3 separate regions of the Homo sapiens genome follow, and all the other regions are linked to region 1. The links come from fine-mapping of genetic effects on gene expression. A gene starts in region 1. Each other region holds a variant in brackets. All regions are shown on one strand. Distances are from middle to middle.

Evidence for each region. PIP is the estimated chance that this variant, and not a neighbour inherited with it, causes the effect.
Region 2: its variant is the best candidate, but not a certain one, in a credible set for the expression of SPTBN1-AS2 in sun-exposed skin (GTEx, PIP 0.81).
Region 3: its variant is the best candidate, but not a certain one, in a credible set for the expression of SPTBN1-AS2 in whole blood (INTERVAL, PIP 0.80).

What each region holds. Positions count from the first base shown.
Region 1 is chr2:54,676,327-54,682,878 of GRCh38, reverse strand. SPTBN1-AS2 (SPTBN1 antisense RNA 2) reads left to right here and starts at 2,834. Exons shown (of 3, transcript NR_186176.1): 1 at 2,834-3,055. LOC105374653 (a long non-coding RNA gene) reads right to left here. Exons shown (of 3, transcript XR_940104.2): 2 at 1,124-1,323.
Region 2 is chr2:54,737,899-54,744,450 of GRCh38, reverse strand. All of the region lies in intron 2 of EML6 (EMAP like 6), which reads right to left. Among named protein-coding and RNA genes, the nearest start is that of EML6-AS1, 9.9 kb to the left of the region's middle. The variant C/G (reference allele first, on the strand shown) is at 3,372.
Region 3 is chr2:54,513,305-54,519,856 of GRCh38, reverse strand. The region is part of intron 1 of SPTBN1 (spectrin beta, non-erythrocytic 1); the gene reads right to left. SPTBN1-AS1 (SPTBN1 antisense RNA 1) reads left to right here. Exons shown (of 4, transcript NR_185881.1): 4 at 1-540. It also overlaps the pseudogene C9orf85P1. Among named protein-coding and RNA genes, the nearest start is that of SPTBN1-AS1, 42 kb to the left of the region's middle. The variant C/T (reference allele first, on the strand shown) is at 2,854.

The sequences.
Region 1 (6,552 bases):
TCTGTGCGCTAGGTACAGGGGGTTCAATGGGAACAAAATAGACATGAGTTTACCTTGTATTTTTGTTAAGAGACAAAATAATGCTAACTGTACCAATCCTGGTGTTTAGTAAATATTAGATCCTCAATGAAAATCAGTTATTAATATTTTAATATAGGAAAACAGGGCCAGGCGCAGTGGCTCATGGCTGTAATCCCAGCACTTTGGGAGGCCGAGGCAGGTGGATCACCTGAGGTCAGGAGTTCGAGACCAGCCTGGCCAAAATGGTGAAACCCCATCTCTACTAAAAATACAAAAATTAGTTGGGTGTGGTGGTGTGCACCTATAGTCGCAGTTACTCAGGAGGCTGAGACAGAAGAATCGTTTGAACTTGGGAGGCGGAGCTTGCAGTGAGCTGAGATCATGCCATTGCACTCCAACCTGGGCGACAGAGCGAGACTCCATCTCAAAAAAAAAAAAAAAAAAAAGGAAAAGAGGTCAAATGGAGATTGTTTACTAAATAGTATTAGGTAAATAGTATTAGGATAACCGGCTAGAGATCAGGGAAAACAATTGGTAGAGGTACCCCTTATAAAAGACATCAAAACAAATTTCAGAAGAATTTATTTAAATTTAAACATGGTATTAAAAAGCACAAAATAAATGTGTTATCAGATCTGTGAAAGAAGATTCATGTCCTCAGTTTTGAAGAAATAAAACCACAAGGAAATGAACAGACCTTAATACTGAAACATAAATTTCATACAAAAACAAAACAGCAGACTGAGGGAAATATTTCATTTGGTGTAATTGATAAAAGGTAAAAATCTGGAGAAAACATTTCAATTTATAAGCAAATCATAGTGATGCCAATAAATAAGCAGACTAAGGATGTTGCAGTGGATAGCTTCATTGTTTTTTTGTTTTTGGCAACTGTGGTAGGCAGAATAATGGTCTCCCAAAGATGTCCACATCCTAATCCACAGAAACTACAAATATGTTTAACATTACATGGCAAAGGGGGATTAAAGTTGCTAATCAGCTGACCTTAAAATAGGGATTGTATTAGTCTGCTTTCACACTGCTATAAAGATGCTACTCGAGACTGGGTTATTTATAAAGGAAAGAGGTTTAATTGACTTACAGTTCTGCATGGCTGGTGAGGCCTCAGGAAACTTACAGTCATGGTGGAAGGGGAAGCAGGCACATTTTTCACAAGTCAGCAGGAGAGTGGAGCAAGGAGGAACTTCCAAACACTTACAAAACCATCAGATTTCCTGAGAACTCAATGACCACAGCATGGGAGAAACCGCCCCCATGGTCCAACGGTCTCCCTCCCTCGACCTGTGCGGATTACAAATCAAAACGAGATTTGAGTGGGGACACAGAGGCAAACCATATCAGGGAGAGTATCCTGGATTACACAGGTGGGCCCAATATAATCACAAGGGTCCTTGAAAGTAGATGAAGGAGGCAGAGGATGGCAACAGTGATGCAGTGTGAGAAAGACTTGATCACTATTGCTGGCTTTGAATATGGGGAAGGGGTCATGAGCCAAGGAATGTGGGCAGCTTCTAAATGTTGCAAACAGCAAGGAATTGAAATTTCCTCTAGAGCATCCCAAAAGGAAAAGAGCCCTGCCAACACCTTGATTTTAATGCAGTGAGTTTTTGTGTCAGACTTCTTACTTATGGAAGAACTGTAAGATAATAAATTTATGTTGTTTGAAGCCACTAAGTTTGTGGTAATTTGGTATAGCAGCAAAGGGAAATTCACACAGCCAGCTACTTTTTAAACGCTGTTCCTGTGTTTGCAGAATCTGTAACCTCAAGGGGCAGAACCTTCCTTCTGCAGAATATGAGGTCTTTTCCCAGCTGCACTTGCAGCAAGGGCACAGATCCATGGCCAGTATCTGTCAATTGTACACCTGCATGATTTTGAATTAGAGGCTGGTCATGTGCAGAGGGGAGCCTGGCAGAATCTGTTCTGTGAGGGCAGTGGCAGGGACAGCTGTCACTGCAGCAGCGTGTTGCTGTCAAAGACAGCAATTCCCACAGCAGGGTTTGCGCACAGTATGGTGTCATGGTGGGCACCTGGCAGTGTCAGAGTCCAGTGACGAGTTCCAGGAGCCTGCCCTAGGCTGGACTTTGGACATTTTTCCTGGCTGTATAAGCCCTAAGCCTGGTGCCCTTGTCCTCCTGGAGATTCTGGGAGCCTTAATAAGTTCCTTTTCTGCTAAATTAGCCAGAGTTGGTTTTTGTGGCTTGTGATTCAGAACCCTCAGTAAATCAGATATGAATGAACAATTCAATTCACTCAAAAAGAAAGTGGTGACACATCCCTGTAGTCCCAGCTCTCAGGAGGATCGATTGAGCCTGGGAGGTCGAGGCTGCAGTGAGCCGTGATCATGCCACTATACCCCAGGTTGGGTGACAGATAAGACCCCATCTCAACAAAAAGGAAAAAAAAAAGCAAGAAGAAAGAAGAAAAAGAAAGAAAGGAAGGAAGGAAGGAAGAAAGGAAGGAAGGAAAGAAAGAAAGAAAGAAAGAAAGAAAGAAAGAAAGAAAGAAAGAAAGAAAGAAAGAAAGAGAAAAAAGAAAGATGACAAAAACAGGAGAAAAAGTTGACCCTAGCTAGCAGTCAAAGAAACTCACAGCTTGAGGTGCCATATGATAGTTACTAAAAACAAAAACAATTGTTTCTGTAGCACAACAACGAGAACAGTTCCTCAGATAATGTCATTTCATTCAACTTTTTTTTTTTTTTTTTAATGATGAGAAAAAAATTGATTCTCTGCCAGGGCCACTGTCTGTGTGGTTTGCATGCTCTCCCCACGTCCACAGGGGTTTTGCTCTGGATGCTCTGGTTTTCTCCCACCCCTCAAAGAGGTGCATGTTCAGTTCACCGGCATGTCTACATGGTCCTGGTGTGAGTGTGGGGTGTGTGTGAGTGTGCCCTGCGATGTGACAGTGTCCTGTTCAGGGCTGGTTCTTACTTTAAGCCCTGAGCTGCTGGAATGAGCTACAGCAACCGGAGACTGGAGACTCCGGCAACCTAGAGAACTGTTATTATTGAGTAAGTTATCTTACTTGCTTTTATTTATCTTTCTTAAATGTATGTATAGCTCATATTTATTTCAGTGGTTAATATCAGAAGTGTTTTTTTTTTTTGAGACGGAGTCTCACTCTGTTGCCCAGGCTGGAGTGCAGTGGTGCAATCTTGGCTCACTGCAACCTCTGCCTCCCAGGTTCTAGTGTTTCTCCTGCTTCAGCCTCCTGAGTAGCTGGGACTACAGGCATGCGCCACCATGCCCGGCTAATTTTTGTATTTTTAGTAGAGACGGGGTTTCACCATGTTGGTCAGGCTGGTCTTGAACTCCTGACCTTATGATCCACTCGCCTCGGCCTCCCAAAGTGCTGGGATAACAGTCATGAGCCACCGCGCCCGGCCTTTGGTTTTTATTTAGAATTTTGATGTGTTTGTGACTAGAAATAAACCATAGGAATATTAATTTGCTTGTGGTAAAATTGGTGTTACTTACTTTCAGATTGCAAGAACATATTGACAACCTTAAGTGAGGACTGACTGTACCTTTGTTTATAGCTAGTAACTAAATGGATACACTGTTTGGAAAGTAATTTGGAAAGGAGTAATAGGAATATTTAGCAAAAATCTGTAAACGTGTCCTTAGCTTCTGACCTGGCAATTGCCAAGAAGCTTGGGAGGGTGTTTGGTAAGATAAAAATTATTTGTGTGCTTGTGTTTGAAAATTATTGATGTGGGCTTACAGTGTGTTAAACTAGGGGTGATAAAATTTGCATTAGGACCCCAGAAGCTTTTAGAGAGCAAAGAGATTAGAACCTATATTCAGTTTCCTGAAATGTAAAGTGACTGAAGCTGTCAGAGCGGCTGAGATCAAGGCTCTCTCTGAGGCTGGGCAGGAGAATGACTCCCCTGGGAGAACATTTCCACAAGGGGAAAGTGGTTAGTAGATGCGTACCCTGCACCAAGGCACGTGATTAAAGGGGAATATGGTCTGTGCAGTAGCCATACCAGGGGGCAGTTTATGCCCCCAGAAAACTGCTCTCAAAAAGAACCAAGAGCTGTAATTTTGGGAACACAAGCCTCTTTGGTGGAGAATGGTGTTATTGCTAAATGCTCAGCATCTGGGGAGCATTTTAATGCCTGATGCTGCATCAACTTGTGGAAAACTACCAATAGTCCTTGAAATAAGCATCACAAAGTCTTGTAGAAACACAGCAAAATGTTTATGATGCATATGTAAGTAAAAATTGTATGCAGAATAGGTACTTGTGATGTTTAACTATGTAGGATTTGAGGCATGTGGGCCAGTGGGTTGTTAGAGTTAAAAAAAAAAGGAAGAATGCTTTTTTTTTTTTTGAGACAGAGTCTCTCTCTGTTGCCCAGGCAGGAGTACATGGGCATGATCTCAGCTCACTGCAACCTCCACCTCCCAAGTTCAAGTGATTCTCGTGCCTCAGCCACCCAAGTAGCTGGTATTACAGGCGTGCACCACCAGGCCTAGCTAATTTTTTTTTTAAGTAGAGATGGTGTTGTGCCATTTTGGCCAGGCTGGTCTTGAACTGCTGACCTCAAGTGGTCTGTCCGCCTTGGCCTCCCAAACTGTTGGGATTACAGGTGTGAGCTACCACACCTGGCCCAAGAATGCTTTTATCATACTGTCTTTCCTGTTCAAAATATTGCATCTCTTACCAACATGTTTCACTAAAAAAACATGAGGTCACCAAATGCCTATTTAAGGAACTGAATTTTTATTTTTAAAAATAAAGTCCCCCAAGTGATGCTACTCATCTGTTTCTTTGGGGAATCCCAGATGCCTGAGTTAATGGTCAGAACATCATTTGGCTGGGAAACAATCCATATAGGTGCAACTGTCCCTGGGTGCGTGGCCCCGTGATTGGGTGCAGCTCCCTCTCAGTCAGTTCTCACTGTCTTATCAAGACTCCATCTCTGAAATCTTGAAATGCATCTTGAAATGCAAGGATCCTTAATCCATTTATTCCTTTGACAAACAGAAAATGAGCCCTTCTGTCTGTTCACGCTTCCCCTCTTTCCTCTTCTGAGAAATGGAGGTCTAATTGCTGGCATGGGAAAGAGCCTTGTTTTAACCGTCAGCTCCGCCCTAGTGGATGGAAGACAGGGTTAGCATGCCCTGTTTTTCATACAGCACCTGGGCTTGTAAAATGGAACTAAAGAAGGAAATGATGACCAGGCATCCAGAAGTCAGCTCCTGTCTTTCTATGCTCTGCTAGAAAAGAGAGGTTGTGAGCTGAGGGACATCAGGAGAGCAGGAAGACCTGCAGGAAGAGCCGGCTGGGCACCCAAACATGGCTGTACCTCAGAAGATGCCTGTGCAGTTCAGAACTTGGAGGAGATGGGGCCGCAGGTGCTGAGGAGGCAGCAAGAGTCAGATGCAGTGACACAGGGGAGGTCAGACATCACAGGAAAGAGCAATGATGGAAGTCAGGGAACGAAGGGGCCCTGTGGCCAGTTCAGGGGGCTAGAGTGAAAATCTGACCTATCTCAGCTGCAGCCCATCAGTTCCTGTAGCTTGTCTTCACATCCTTTGGCTAGAAAGCAGATGAAAGAAAACCTGTCCACAGAGGCTGTGGGCTGAGCCTCTCCTCCCCACTTTTTAAACACCAGACACCGACATAGGCTTTATGCTGAGCTGTGATTTATCTTGCCAACCTTCTGAGGCTACAGAGTACCCAGCTGTTTGGAGGGTCCTTCTGCCCTACCTTTCCTCCTTCCTTACTTCTTTCCTTCCATCTTTTCTTCCTTCCAAATATTTATTGTGTCCCCACCACACACTCTTTATCTGAACTTAAATTTGATCCGAAAAGGACTTCAGCATGTATTGACAGTTGAAATCCAGGCAGCTACAGATTTGTAAGGCCAGTGAATCAGGCATCAGCTATCCTCTAATTACATTGCACATGTATTTGAGAGCAAAGCTTGCACTTGCATAGCTAAACTCTAGAGTCACATGGATGCTCAAGGAGTCAGTGAAGAGCTGTGGCTTCAAGAACCCAGCCTTGCATGGCTGTTGAGTGGACATGACACTGGGTATCCAGTCCTTTCTCTGAAAGCCCACGACTGGGGCAACAGCTTACACACATGAGATGCCCTCTCAGCTGGCACTGGTTCCATGACCATCATTCCTCAGCCCACAGAGAAGTGCAGGAAAAGAATCTAGGTGGGGGACAGTTAGTGTAGTCTGAGAGTGTGGCCTCTGGAGAGATGTGTCAGAATTCAAATATCCAGCTGCGATTTGTACAAGTACTTAACTCTTTAAGCCTCTGTTTTCTTCTTTGTACAATGAAGACATTGCCTGGTAGAATTGCTGCAAGGATTTGATGAGAACGCAACTTGAAAACTTAGCACACTGCCTGGACAACCTTATAGTTGGTTACCTATTAATATTAGCAAGATGAAATCATTCCATTTGGAGGAAAACAAATGGTGGAAACAAAACCAGTGGTTCAGAGTCCCATACCTAAATCACTGACTGATTTTTTTCAATCAGT
Region 2 (6,552 bases), 62 kb before region 1:
TCAAAGCTTCCATGGCTCACCTCCGCATTTGGATTTTTATCCAGTCCAAATGTGAAATCACCTACATGTTCCTGCAAATTTATCCCTCGGGGTCACTTTGCCACCCAAGGACATTCCCATGGGTTTACATCCCTTCCTCTGGCCCCTTAGGCACTCAGCCAGCTCTTGTTTTCTTCTAGGCTACCACCATTATGGGTCCTTCCTTTCCCCACAAAAGACTGCTAACATAAAGCAATCTCTTTAGCTCAGAAGGCCGCCTGTCTCACAGCTGCATTTCTAAGTGTGCTACATTATTATTTTCTAGATTCCCCCCACCCCCCACAACTCTCCTCTGGCCCAACTACCATTGTTCAATGTAAATGCCCAGAATTGTCCAATGCATTGTCTTCATCCTAACTGTGACCTCAACCTGCAATGCTTTCCCCCACCCAGTGTGCCAGCTAACTTCCTAACATCCTCCTAGAGGCCACCCAAATGCCATCTCTTCCAGAATGGGTTCTTCCAAAACCCCACTAGTCAAATTTACCTTCCTTCCTCTATTCTCTAGTTCAGGGGTTTTCAAAGATATGTGCAAGATGATTTGGGGGAGTATAGTAAGAAATTTATATGTAAATTGCATTCACATATAAATTTAATGTAAATGTCATATGTGTTTTATAATATAATGTTAGCACAATAATACAAGTATATAACATAAATATATAAAAAAACAAATATTCCTATAGTGGGAGTTGCACAAGAGTATTTTACCAAGAGAGGTATACAATCAAAAAAAGTTTAGAGACTACAACTCTAGCTTAACATTTTTCACTATGGGCTTCTTATTTAAGGTAATTTTGGCTCTGTCTCTCCTGGTTTATGAGTTCCCATGTAATAGAAAGAACATGGCTTTGGAGTCAGAAATAGGTTCAAAGTTGGGTCTGTTGGTTACTAGCCATGTAACTATACCTCTGAATTCTCTTCAGGATTACAGGGAAAAATGCATATATATAAAATACGTCTTTGAAAATAATAGATATATACAGCAGGTCCTTGAATAACATTGTCTTGTTACAACATTGATGAGAAAAAATATCAATTCCTGGCCAGGGCCACTGTCATTTGGAGTTCGCACGATCTCCCCACGTCTGCGAGGGTTTTCTCCAGGTGCTCTGCTTTCCTCCCACATTCCAAAGATGTGCATGTTCAGTGAACTGGTGTGTCTCCATGAGTGCTACATGAGTGCAACTGTGTATGTGCGTGCACCCTGCGACGTGACTGCGTCCTGTCCAGGGCTGGTTCCCACCTTGTACCCTGAGCTGCGGGGATAGGCTCCAGCCACCCGGGACCCTGAACTGAATAAACAAGTAAATCATTATCTTACTAGTTTTTATTAACTTTTCTTAAACATCTAGATAGCTCCCATTTACTTTAATGTTTAATATGATAAGCATTTTGGTCTTTAGTTAGGTTAGTGATTTTCCTGTGGCCAGAAATATGCGTAGGAATTTAACTCTTTATATCAATCGGCTGATGGTAAAATTGGTTTGTTGTACATTGTTTTGTTTAAAGTCACAGTTTCCAAAGACCTATCAATGATGAAATTCAGTGAGGACTTACGTGTGAAAAAACTTACTCAGGGCCTAGAGTGAGGTTTCTTTCTCTTTTATGTCATTCTTCAACTCACTTTGCAAAGCTCCTTATATGCTTTACTGAATTGAATTCTCAATAACAATCTACCAGTGTGTCTAGAGGAAGAAGCTGAGGCTGGCTGTGTAACAACTAAGAAGTGGTAGAATCAGATTCAAACCTAGGTGTGACTGGCACTGAAGCCCTAGCTTTTTCCACCACATAAAGAGCCTCCGGGACACAGAGGGGCCAGTCGCCTGCATAACTGGGGTGGAGAGACACACAAATGGAAAGTCATAGCAGAATTGAGACGTGTTTAAGAGACGGAGAAAATGCTACAGTGGCAAGGAGGAAACAGACATTAGTTCTGCCCCCATGAAATCAGGGAGGGCTTCACAGAGATGGTGACACTGTAGTTGTCTCTTGGCTTATATGAATCTGCCACAAATTCAGATTCCAGAGACCTGGAAGGCACTTTCAGCAGCAAGGCTGTGGGCAGTAACATGGAGACACATATACCCTTTGACTTACTGCAAGGAGTATGGGTGATGGGACCAAAGGTAGGAAAGTCGGGGAAACAGAGCTGTGGCAAGAGATAATGGCAAAAAGGTGGGGGTAGGGTCGCATTCCAGAAGCAATAGAGTTGGCCGGAGTTTTTAAGCAAGGCAGAGACAGATCAGATCTGTGCCACAGAACACTAATTCCAGTGCTAGCATAGAGCAGAAATTCTGGAGACTAAAACCACTTGAGGAATCTTTTTTTCTTTTAATGGTGTGGTTTGTCCCATTGTTATGAATGTTAATTTGAATTTAGTTATGGTGGGTTGCCAGGTTTCTCCACTGTACTTATTGTTTGTCCTTTGTAAATATTAACTATCTGGTGGTGGAGGACAATGTAAAATCACGTTTCTCAACAAAACTTCATCACTAGTTATAGCATCCATTGGTTTTCTAACTCCATCATTCCAGCTATATTTAATACTTGGCTTTCTATACAAGGAAGAGCTTTGCCTTCTCCCCATTGAGTTATTTATATCACTATGGATGCAAGGATTTTTATTTTATTCTACAGATTATAATTCATGCTCAAATTATCCCAGATGTCGCCAATGGAAGTCCCTTCAAGCTGGCTCTCATGTCATTTTAATATCTCCCCTTATTCTTTAAGCACTGCTATATTTTCTAGCACAAGAAGATATTCCAGATGTATCTTGTGCTTTCACTGCCCCAGGCCTAGAATCAGCTTTTTCTCCAAGGAGTTCTGTTCTTTTTTGTGGAGAACAGTCTTTAGAAACTGAATTCTTGGTGCTAGTCATGTTTCTGGTGCTGATGTGTCACTGCTTTCTTAGTAATCTTAACAGAAAGAGCAAGGAAGTGTGTGTGTGTGTGCGTGTGTACTTATTTATATACACCTATATATATATTTCTATGGCAACTTTTTAAATGCAGATTTTGGGGCCTCACACCTATACCTACTGAATCAGAATCCTTAGGAGTGGGCTCATTAAATCTGAATTTTTTTGTTTAAGTTCACCAGGTTCTTGAGCAGAGGATGGGCTAGGGGAGTAACCATCAAAGCCAGGAGGCCAGTTAGTACTCTATTGTAACCATCCACACAAAACCAGGGATGTGGACCAGGGCAGAAGCAGTAAGATAGAGAGGCCAAGATCAGCTGCACTTGGGGCTCTCTGGACAATAAGAATGAGGAGGGAAGGAGTATCCAGGCACTCAGTGGTTCCTGCCTGGATCGCTGTGATCGTGTGG[C/G]CTGCACTGTCATTTACAGAGTAAGCACTGAACACGTTTGTTTAACTTAAGTAGCTTCTCATTTTTCTCCCATAGATTATAAAAAAATCCAAGTTGTTGACATTCTGGGAAGAAAATAATTATAAATTTATAGAATTTATATCTCTTCTATTACATTTTTATCATATGGACTAGAAACTGAATTTCACTCAAGGCAAGAAAGATGACCTGCAAAGTCATTATCAGTAGGCCAACCCCTCACATACACAAACAGGGCCAGTCAAAGTGAATGTGTTCATATCTACTCTGCAGAAAAATAGGCCTGCAAGTCTTTTTACCAAGAAGCAACATCTGTAACAATATCTCTTATTGTCCCAAGAAAAAAAAAAAGAGCTAGAGTCTGCTAGAGATAGAAGTCATTAAGCTGAAAGGACTGCCTACTACCACTGCAGCATAAAACTCACTAGAGCATGAGGAAAATATATAAAGCAGATGTAAGAAGAAAAGTAAACCTGAAAGGAAATGACCCTTGGACATTCGTATTGCTATAACAGAAAGCTTAAAACCCAGATGAAAGTACAATCCAGAGAAAAATCATCATTCCCAGTGTTTATGTAGTAAAAGCAATTCATCAATGACCTCTTATTGCTAAATCCACTGGGCCGTTTTCCAGACTCACCTTCTTCTACTCTGCTGAGTCTGCTGAGCATCTTCTTGACACTCTCTCTGTTCTTGGTTTCAAGGGCATTCTACTTCCCTGGTTTGCCTCCTACCCCTGTGACCATTCCCATCTTTCATAAGTACCCCTTTATCTGCTGGTTTCTAAAAAGTTGATCTTTCTCAAAGTCCTGACCCTGGGATCTTTTCTTTCCTCCCTACCTTCTCTGGGTATCTCACCCACTCCTACACATACACTGAAACTCTCACAGCTCTCTCCTGAGCAAGGGCCCATATAAATGTATAACCACCTCTTGGATGTCTCACAGACACCTCAATCTAAATATGTTCAAAGCTGAACTCATCTCCCCTGACCCTGAAGCTGCTCCTCATTCTGTTTCAGTGAATGGTCATCACCATTCAACCAGCTGACTAAGTCAGAAACTTGACCACTACGTTACACCTACCTGCCTTCTTTCTACCCTACTCCCAATGCCCTCTCCCATATCCAATCCATCACCAGGAATCAAGAGTCTCCAGAACGTATTCATAGTTCTCTTTGCATTCTACCACAATTACTTCACACCTGGATTACTTCAAGTGCTTGCAGACTTGTTTCCTCCAATCCATTATCCACACTGTAGCCAGAGTGACAGGTATACAGCCTAAATCTAATGATGCCCCTTCTTCCAGAAAGCCTTCCCTAACCACCAACCGCCTCCCATGAATGGGCTAGGAGTATGTCCTGAGGCTCTCACACACTTTGGGTAACTAACCATATCTGGCTGTGCATATGTGGACTCCTGCCCTCGTGACTGCAAGTTCATTGAGAGGAGATGTGTGCTGTGTGCTGTGTGCTGCTGGGTCCCCAGCGCCTCACACAGGGTATGACACACAGGAGGCACTCAAGAAATCTTTGTTGTAAGTCATTTTCCTTAAGGGTTTCTTAACCTGGGGGTCCATGTACCCTTTTATAGATTTCAGGAGGTTGATGAACTTAGATTAAAAATTATACCTTCATTTTCACTAACTTGTAACACACTAAGATTTCCTATCATTCAAAAGGTAATCAACAAACCATAGAAGTGTTAGCAGCACCTGCGACCTTGTGACTGGTAAAACACAGAATTTTCATATCACATTACATTTGTTGCAGATATCTCAAACATCAGGTATATTCATCCCTACTTTTAAATCATAGTAATTATAAGAACTACTAAAACTTTTAATTGTATGTGTTAATAAAGAAGCACATATAACATATACCTACATATTAAAACTATTTTTATAACCATATTTCAAAAGAATTTCCTATAGAATATATGTATATATTTTACTTTATACATGAGAAAACACTATTCTGTGATGGTGGAAGTATAAATCGACACAACCACTTTGGTCTCAAACTCCTGGTCTCATGTGATCTGCCCACCTTGGCCTCCCAAAGTGCTGGGATTACAGGAGTGAGCCACCGCATCTGGCCAGATGCAACCACTTTGGAAAACCATTTGACAGTATCTAGCAAGTACCATATGTGCACCCCGTGACCTAACAATACCACTCCTAGGTGGAACTGCATATATGTTCACTTGTGCTAGAATGCTTGTACGAGTAGCCAAAGGAAACTGCAAACCATCCAAAGGCCCATAAACAGTAGAACAGATAAACTCCAGTATTTCCACACAACAAAAAATACAGAACTGAAAATAAGCATGTAGAAACACAAATGAATCTCATCAACATAGTATTGACTGAAAGGAGCTAGACATAAAAGAATGCAAACTGTACCATTCCTTTTAAAAGTACCTTAAGCAAAACTAAGCTATGCTCTTAAAAGTGAGGATGGAGGTCACCTTTGCAGTGGGGATTGTCACTGGAAAAGGGCATGAGGTGCTGTCTGTGGTATGGATGGTATTGATTTTTTGATGTGAGCAAGGTTACAGGTGTGTTGGGTTTGTGAGAATTGATCCAGCTGTACACTATGATATATGTACTTTTCTGTATCTGTATTACACTGCAATAAAAGTGTAAAACAGAACAAACAAGCCTATTATTCTGAGATGGTGTCTATAGGCTTCATAGCCTGTCAAAGGGGGTACAAAAAAGAAGTCCTATTCTAAGCAGAAATTCTAAGGGTATCATCCAAAAACAAATAAAAGTCATGCACAAGTCTTTCATTTGTTCATTCAACAAACACTTCTTAAGCACCTTCTACATGCCAGGCTCCATTATGAGAACTGTAGGCAGAGCAGTGAATGAAACAGCCCTGCCCAAATACAGCTTATATTTTAAAGAGCCAAGATGGATCAAAAGAAATACTAAGGAAAAAAAAACAAGGATGTGCAATAAGGAATGTGTTAGAGAAGAGTTTGAATTTTAAATAGAGTAATCAGTTAAGGTAACACTGATCAGGCACCTAAGGGAAGTGAGTAATGTCATGTGAATGTCTGAGGGGACAAGGATCCAGGCAGAAAGAGTGCAAAAGAGTACAAAGGCCCTGCGGCAGAAGAGCACCTGGGTATTCAAGCAGCAGCTAGAAGGCCAG
Region 3 (6,552 bases), 160 kb after region 1:
GTGGCCCTAAGGTAACTCGTACCTCCTGAAAATCTCATGAGTTAGTTCCAGCAGGAGTTTCTCATTCCAGCTCCTCATCTCTCATTGTAATCCCTAATCCATTCCCCTACAATGCTACCAGAGGGACCGTGCTAAAATGTAATTCCAGTTATTTTATCCCCCTAAAAACTAAAATCTACCAAATGGCTCCCAATGCCATCAGAATAATGCCAAGAAGCCTTAGGAGAGAAAATGAGATTCTTCACGAGGACCTTGCCCATCTCTCTAGCCTGGTCCCACTATCCATGTCCTAAGCTCTTGCAACTCCTGAGAGAGAAGAATCATGTTCTTGTCTCAGTTCCAAACCTATCACCTGGAACAGCTCTTTGCTCTTCCTGCAAATCCTAGCTCAGGTATCACTACATCCAGGAACCTCCTCAAATCACTCACCACCACCACCACCTGGTCTGAATTAGACAACCTTAGACAGTGCCCACATGCACTCCCTCCGACACCTTATGCACCGCTGACCTATCATTAAAAGACTGCTTCATAATTACAAACCTTCTATTTACTTACCATCAATAAGCCATGGCCTCTTGAGGTCATGATCCCATCATTCTGTCTTTATAACTCCTAGCAGGGTGCCTGGTAACATTAAGTGCTTGCTAATTATTTGTTTCTAAATGGGCTGCCTGGACAGGTGGCAGAGGGAGGACTGGGAGGTGAGAGCACAGGGGCAAAGTCAATTGGAGCTGCCACTCTGGTACTATCTCCATCAGTCACAACGCCTGAAACATATACTCCTCTGATTTAGATAGATCTGGTAGACACTCTGCTTTCAAGGAAGTCACATTTTTTAAAATAGGCTGCTAATGAAAGAGTGAATATTTTATAAGGTGCCTCTCCATACACATAATAAAATTTAGATTTCCCTTTTAAATTTAGTTTTTACCCTTGTAAAAAAATTATTTTTTGTCTGAACTACTCAGATTTCAGAGAGTAAAGCAACAAATAGAGAATACATGGAATTTTCATTGGCACTACACATATGCACACACCCATATACACACACTTCCTTAATACCCAATCTTAAAAGGCTCAAATAAATTAAATAAAATGAAGAAGGTGACCAATGTTTGCCAGTCCTTTTCGAGGAAGAAAACTATGTAACAATTACTTTGGCAGAATTCAGAGACCCAAATGTTCTGCAAACACTTAAAACACTCCCACTTTATTCATAAAAGACTTGAAAAAGTGTACACTGGATGCTGGTATGCTATCTTTAAAAAGGCCTTCTAAGGACTCTGAAGGCACCAAACTGCAAATCGTGTGTCTGAGAATTTTGCTTCAACTATCTCAACTGTTCAGTTGCCAAAAAGGAGTATCTACAAGAAACCACTGTTTCTTTTTTTTTTTTTTTAATTATACTTTAGGTTCTAGTGGACATGTGCACAATGTGCAGGTTTGTTACATATGTATACGTGTGCCGTGTTGGTTTGCTGCACCCATTACCTCGTCATTTACTTTAGGCATTTCTCCTAATGCTATCCCTCCCCCATCTCCCCACCCCATGACAGGCCCCGGTGTGTGATGTTCCCCGCCCTGTGTCCAAGTGTTCTCACTGTTCAATTCCCACCTATGAGTGAGAACATGCAAGAAACCACTGTTTCTTAATAACCTGTCTGACCTATTATTACTCAGGTACATGGGGCTAGTGCCAAAAAAGGACCGAGATTGCATCCCAAACATTCAGAGTTCTCTGCTCATAAATATAAAGACACACATGAAAAGTCACGGCATGATAATTAACAACACAAGAAAAGTCACAAGCATATAATGTCTATTATTAAAGTAGCCTTCACTTTTAAAACAATCCAGTGTACTGCAGCTTTACAGAAACATATCCACTGTTTAAAAAAAAAAAAAAACAATACCAGGCACAGTGGCTCATGCCTGTAATCCCAGCACTTTGGGAGGCTGAGGCGGGCGGATCATGAGGTCAGGAGCTCGAGACCAGCCTGGCTAACATGGTGAAACCCTGTCTCTACTAAAAATACAAAAATTAGCTGGGCGAGGTGGCGGGCGCCTATAATCCCAGCTACTCAGGAGGCTGAGACAGCAGAATTGCTTGAACCCGGGTGATGGAGGTTGCAGTGAGCTGAGATAGCGCTACTACACTCCAGCCTGGGTGGCAGAGCGAGACTCTGTCTCAAAAGAAAAAAAAAAAAAAGGCACCATAGAGCTGTATACAGTTCAGCCAAAATTCACAAAATCAGATCATCCTGACAGGGAAAGGTTCTCTGAGACCTATTAATAATTATTAAATTACTAAACTCTTGTTAATAAAGTATTTTGGACTTCAAATAATCTATAGCTGTACTAACTTTTATTTATCAATGACAGAGTATAGTAATATTTCCCACTATGATTATCAGATTTTCTTTCTCATTCCCTGAGTATGTTACAAGATCATAATTATTTTATCTTCCAGATGAGCTGTTAATATTATGAAATATTGTTGTATCTCTATTAACATATGAACTCTATTTTGATTGACAGTAATATTTGCCTGGTATGTATTTTTCTATCCCCTTATTTCAAACCTTCTGTAAACTAAAAATAAAATTCTAAGGCCCCCAACCATCTGAATGGGCCCTCTTGGCCAAGGGCATCCCGGAGTTGCCTGAAAATCTCTTTCAGGCCATGATGGAAAAGGGGAGGATGGACATGCCTCACTATCCATCCCCCTCCAGCATTAACATCAACTCAGACCTTAAGTGGGATAAGAAATACTCAAACTCTATTCTCTCTGAAGCCTGCTACTTGGAGGCCTCATCTGCATGATAAAACCTAGGTCTCCACAACCCCTTA[C/T]CATAAGCCAGACATTCCTTTCTACTGATAATGACTCTTTCGACCAATTGCCATCAGAAAAAATTTAAATCTACCTATGACCTGGAAGGCTGCCCCTATCCTGCCCTTCCAGGTCAAACCAATGTAAATCTTACATGTACTGATTGATGTACTGTGTCTCCCTAAAATGTATAAAAGCAAGCTGTACCCTGACCACCTTGGGCACATGTTATCAGGACCTCCTGAGGCTATGTCACTGGTGTGTCCCTAACCTTGACAAAATAAACTTTCTAAATTGACTGAGACTTGTCTCAGACATTTTGAGTTCACACTTCTAGAGTCACTTTGTCTTAGGTATGCCTCTCTTTGTTTCAATCTAACCCAAGAGCCTCTGTCACTTAGTCGGCAAGCATAATCCATTTGCATTTATTGGGATTACTACCATATTTGACGTTTCAGTCAATTTATTTTGTATTTTCAATCATAATTAACAAAAATATGGAAACTGGGGCCCCAAGAGTTAAACAACTCAATCAAGTCACACAGCTATGATGCTTTTATCATAATATCTTCATCACTATTGAATCTTGTACCATAAGAACACAACCTAATCTTTAAAATGCAGAGGTGATGACTCTAAACCCTAACACAGCTAAAAATTACATTTTGGGAGGATGGCTTACTCTTTCTGGGGTGCGGTGCTTTATTTGCTTTCTCATTCCATCCTCCTCAGCAACCTTTTGAAGTAGATACTATTATTAGCCCTATTTTACAGGTGAATAAACTAAAGTTTTGCTGGTGGTGGCACAGGAAAAAAATGAAGAAACCAAGAGGACTTGAACCAAGTGGGTATGACTCCAAAGCCCATGCTTTAAATGAACAAATTGGCCTACCCTCTAAGGCAAGAACCCTTTAATAGTGGTCTATGTCAGAAAAATATCAAAAAGACTCAAGGCTCTTAAATAAATAAGGAAATGAATGACCTGCATCAAAGTCTAATTACGCCTAGGCCAGTTACCCACCCAGCCAGGTCTCCTTGTACATACACAATGGGGGTGATATTGCCCCCACAAGGAATGAAAATTCATTTTGGGGATGAGGCAAAAAATTGTATTCTTTTTCATATTAGCATAGATATATAATGTATCTATGGCATGAAAATTTCATGGGTGGGCAATTAGGAGGAAAAAAAGGGTCACACTGGGCGAGGGGGCTCACATCTGTAATCCCAGTGCTTTGGGAGGCCCAGGCAGGAGGATCATTTGAGGCCATGAGTTCGAGACCAGCCTGGGCAACAAAGTGAGCCCGTCTCTACAAAAAAATTAAAAATTAGTCAAGTGTGGTGACACATGCCTGTAGTCCCAGCCATTCATCTTCAAATGGGAGGATCACTTGAGCCTGGGAGGCCAAGGCTGCAGTAAGCTGTGATCATGCCAAAGCACTACAGCCTGGGGGACAGAGCAAGACCCTGTCACAAAAATAAATAAATAAATAAATAATCTAAAAAATTCCTGATAAGGGATGGGAATAATGAAAAAAATGATGAAAAACACTATCCAAGCTAAAGAAAAAAATGCTCATCTCCTTTAATGAAGATGTAACCACCCAACAGTTTCACCTCACCCACTGTCTAGACAGAGCCTATTTATCAAGACAGGGGAATTGCAATAAAGTTATTCACACAGAGCTGGCTGTGCAGCAGACCAGAGTTTTGCTATTACTTAAAACAGTCTCCCCAAGAATTTGGGGACTGGAGTTTTTAAGGATAATTTGCTGGGTAGGGGTCCACTGAGTTGGCAGTTCTGATTGGTAGGGGTGGAGATGAATACAGAGTTGAAGCTGTCCTCTTGCATTGAGTCAGTCCTGGGTGGGGGCCACAAGACCAGATAAGCCAGTTTATCCATCTGGGTGGTGCCAAATGATCCATCGAGGACAGGGTCTGCAAAATGTCACAAGCACTCATCTTAGGTTTTGCAATAGTGATGTTATTCCCAGGAACCATTTGGGGAGGTTTAGAATCTTGCAGCCTCCAGCAGCATGACTCCTAAACCATATTTTCTAATGTTGTGGTTAATTTGCTAGTCCTACAAAAGCAATCTAGTCCCCAGGCAAGAAGGGGGTTTTGTTATCATCTTTGTTTTAAACTACAAACTAAGTCCCTCTCAAAGTTAGTTTGGCCTAAGCCCAGGAAAGAGCAAGGACTGCTTGGAGGTTAGAAGCAAGATGGAGTTGGTTAGTACAGATCTCTTCCACTGTCTCAGTTAGAGTTTTGCAACGGCAGTTTCGAACACTTGAAAAAAGCCTCAGAAGACAGAAAGATGAAGAGCACATTTCTCTGTACTAAAGAATTAGAATTTCACATATCATGGGTCCCATTCATTATGTCTCTGATATAAAATCTCAGAGTGGCTACTCCCCACCAGAACTAACGTGTGTACTTTAGGGGAGCAGTGAAGATTTAGCCATCTTCTTCCTACAACATTCAAACGCTAAAATGCCCATTATGAACCTCCATTCTCAATATTCAGAGATAAACCTCTTTCCTGTAAGGATGGAAAACGCCACTGGAAGGTGATTCTAGCTTTACAAACAACACAGTCCAATAGACACATTTTTTTTTCTTAATGGGCAAATTCAACCAGGCTCTATACTCTTTGAAGGAGCAAAATTCACCCTTACTATAATGGAAATTAATTGTTTTTTAAGATTTCACTCGTGGGAAATACACTGTTTATTTTAAAACATTCTGCCAAATAGATCTCATCACCACGGTTTAAGAACTTATTATCATTATTATACAGTATAACCATGAATACACTCTATAACAAAAAACGGTATGAGACAGAAACATGGCACCCCTCTCACCTTCCTCCATTTTACAGAGCAAACTGCACAAGGAACAGTGATATTACAAATGGATTTATTATTTGAGTCCCTGAGAAGAAAATTCTTTATCTGCTGCATAGAAATTTATCCTTCTTTACTACTCGTACATTAAAATTTTAAAGTACTTCTTCTCCGCTTACATATAATACTCTCTAAAATCTAAATATAATTTTGTAAGTCCTAATATTTTGAAAAATCAGCTGAATATTGAAAGTAGATAGATCTAGAGAGAAAAGTTAATTTTTCCAATGTTCAGTTACAAATCTTGAAATCACCTAACTTGAACCAACTAAAATATTTTTTAAGTCCTACCAAATAAATACACAGCTATTCTCATATACATGGCAGTTCAAGGCCATCCTTGTTTCTGTTCCACATACAGAGAAGAGCTATTAAAAAACTGAAATTAACTGATGTCTTCTGGTTGACTAAATTATTTTTAAAAATAGAAACTATTAACTCAATACAGACCTAGCACCATGGTCTTATGGCTAATGTGGGGTTTCTAGCCACCACAAATAACAATTTGGTCTTACATTTACTTCCAAATAGTTTTAAATTACATTAGAGTATAGTTCTAATGGTGCTGCTGCCAAAATACCAGTCCTGAATTTCAGTGAGTTTGGCATTTCACTGCCCTATTTGTTGTGAAATTTCATAAGTTAGTATCATATGTGCCTGAACAACACAGGAGCAATAAAGCACTTTTTATTTGTAATCTGACTTCTCCTAGAGCAACCCAATGCCAAAATCCTCTGCAAATCTATCAAGTGGAAATGCATATCTCAATTACCTGGAAGGGAATGAAATGAAACAAATATGTAAAACTACACT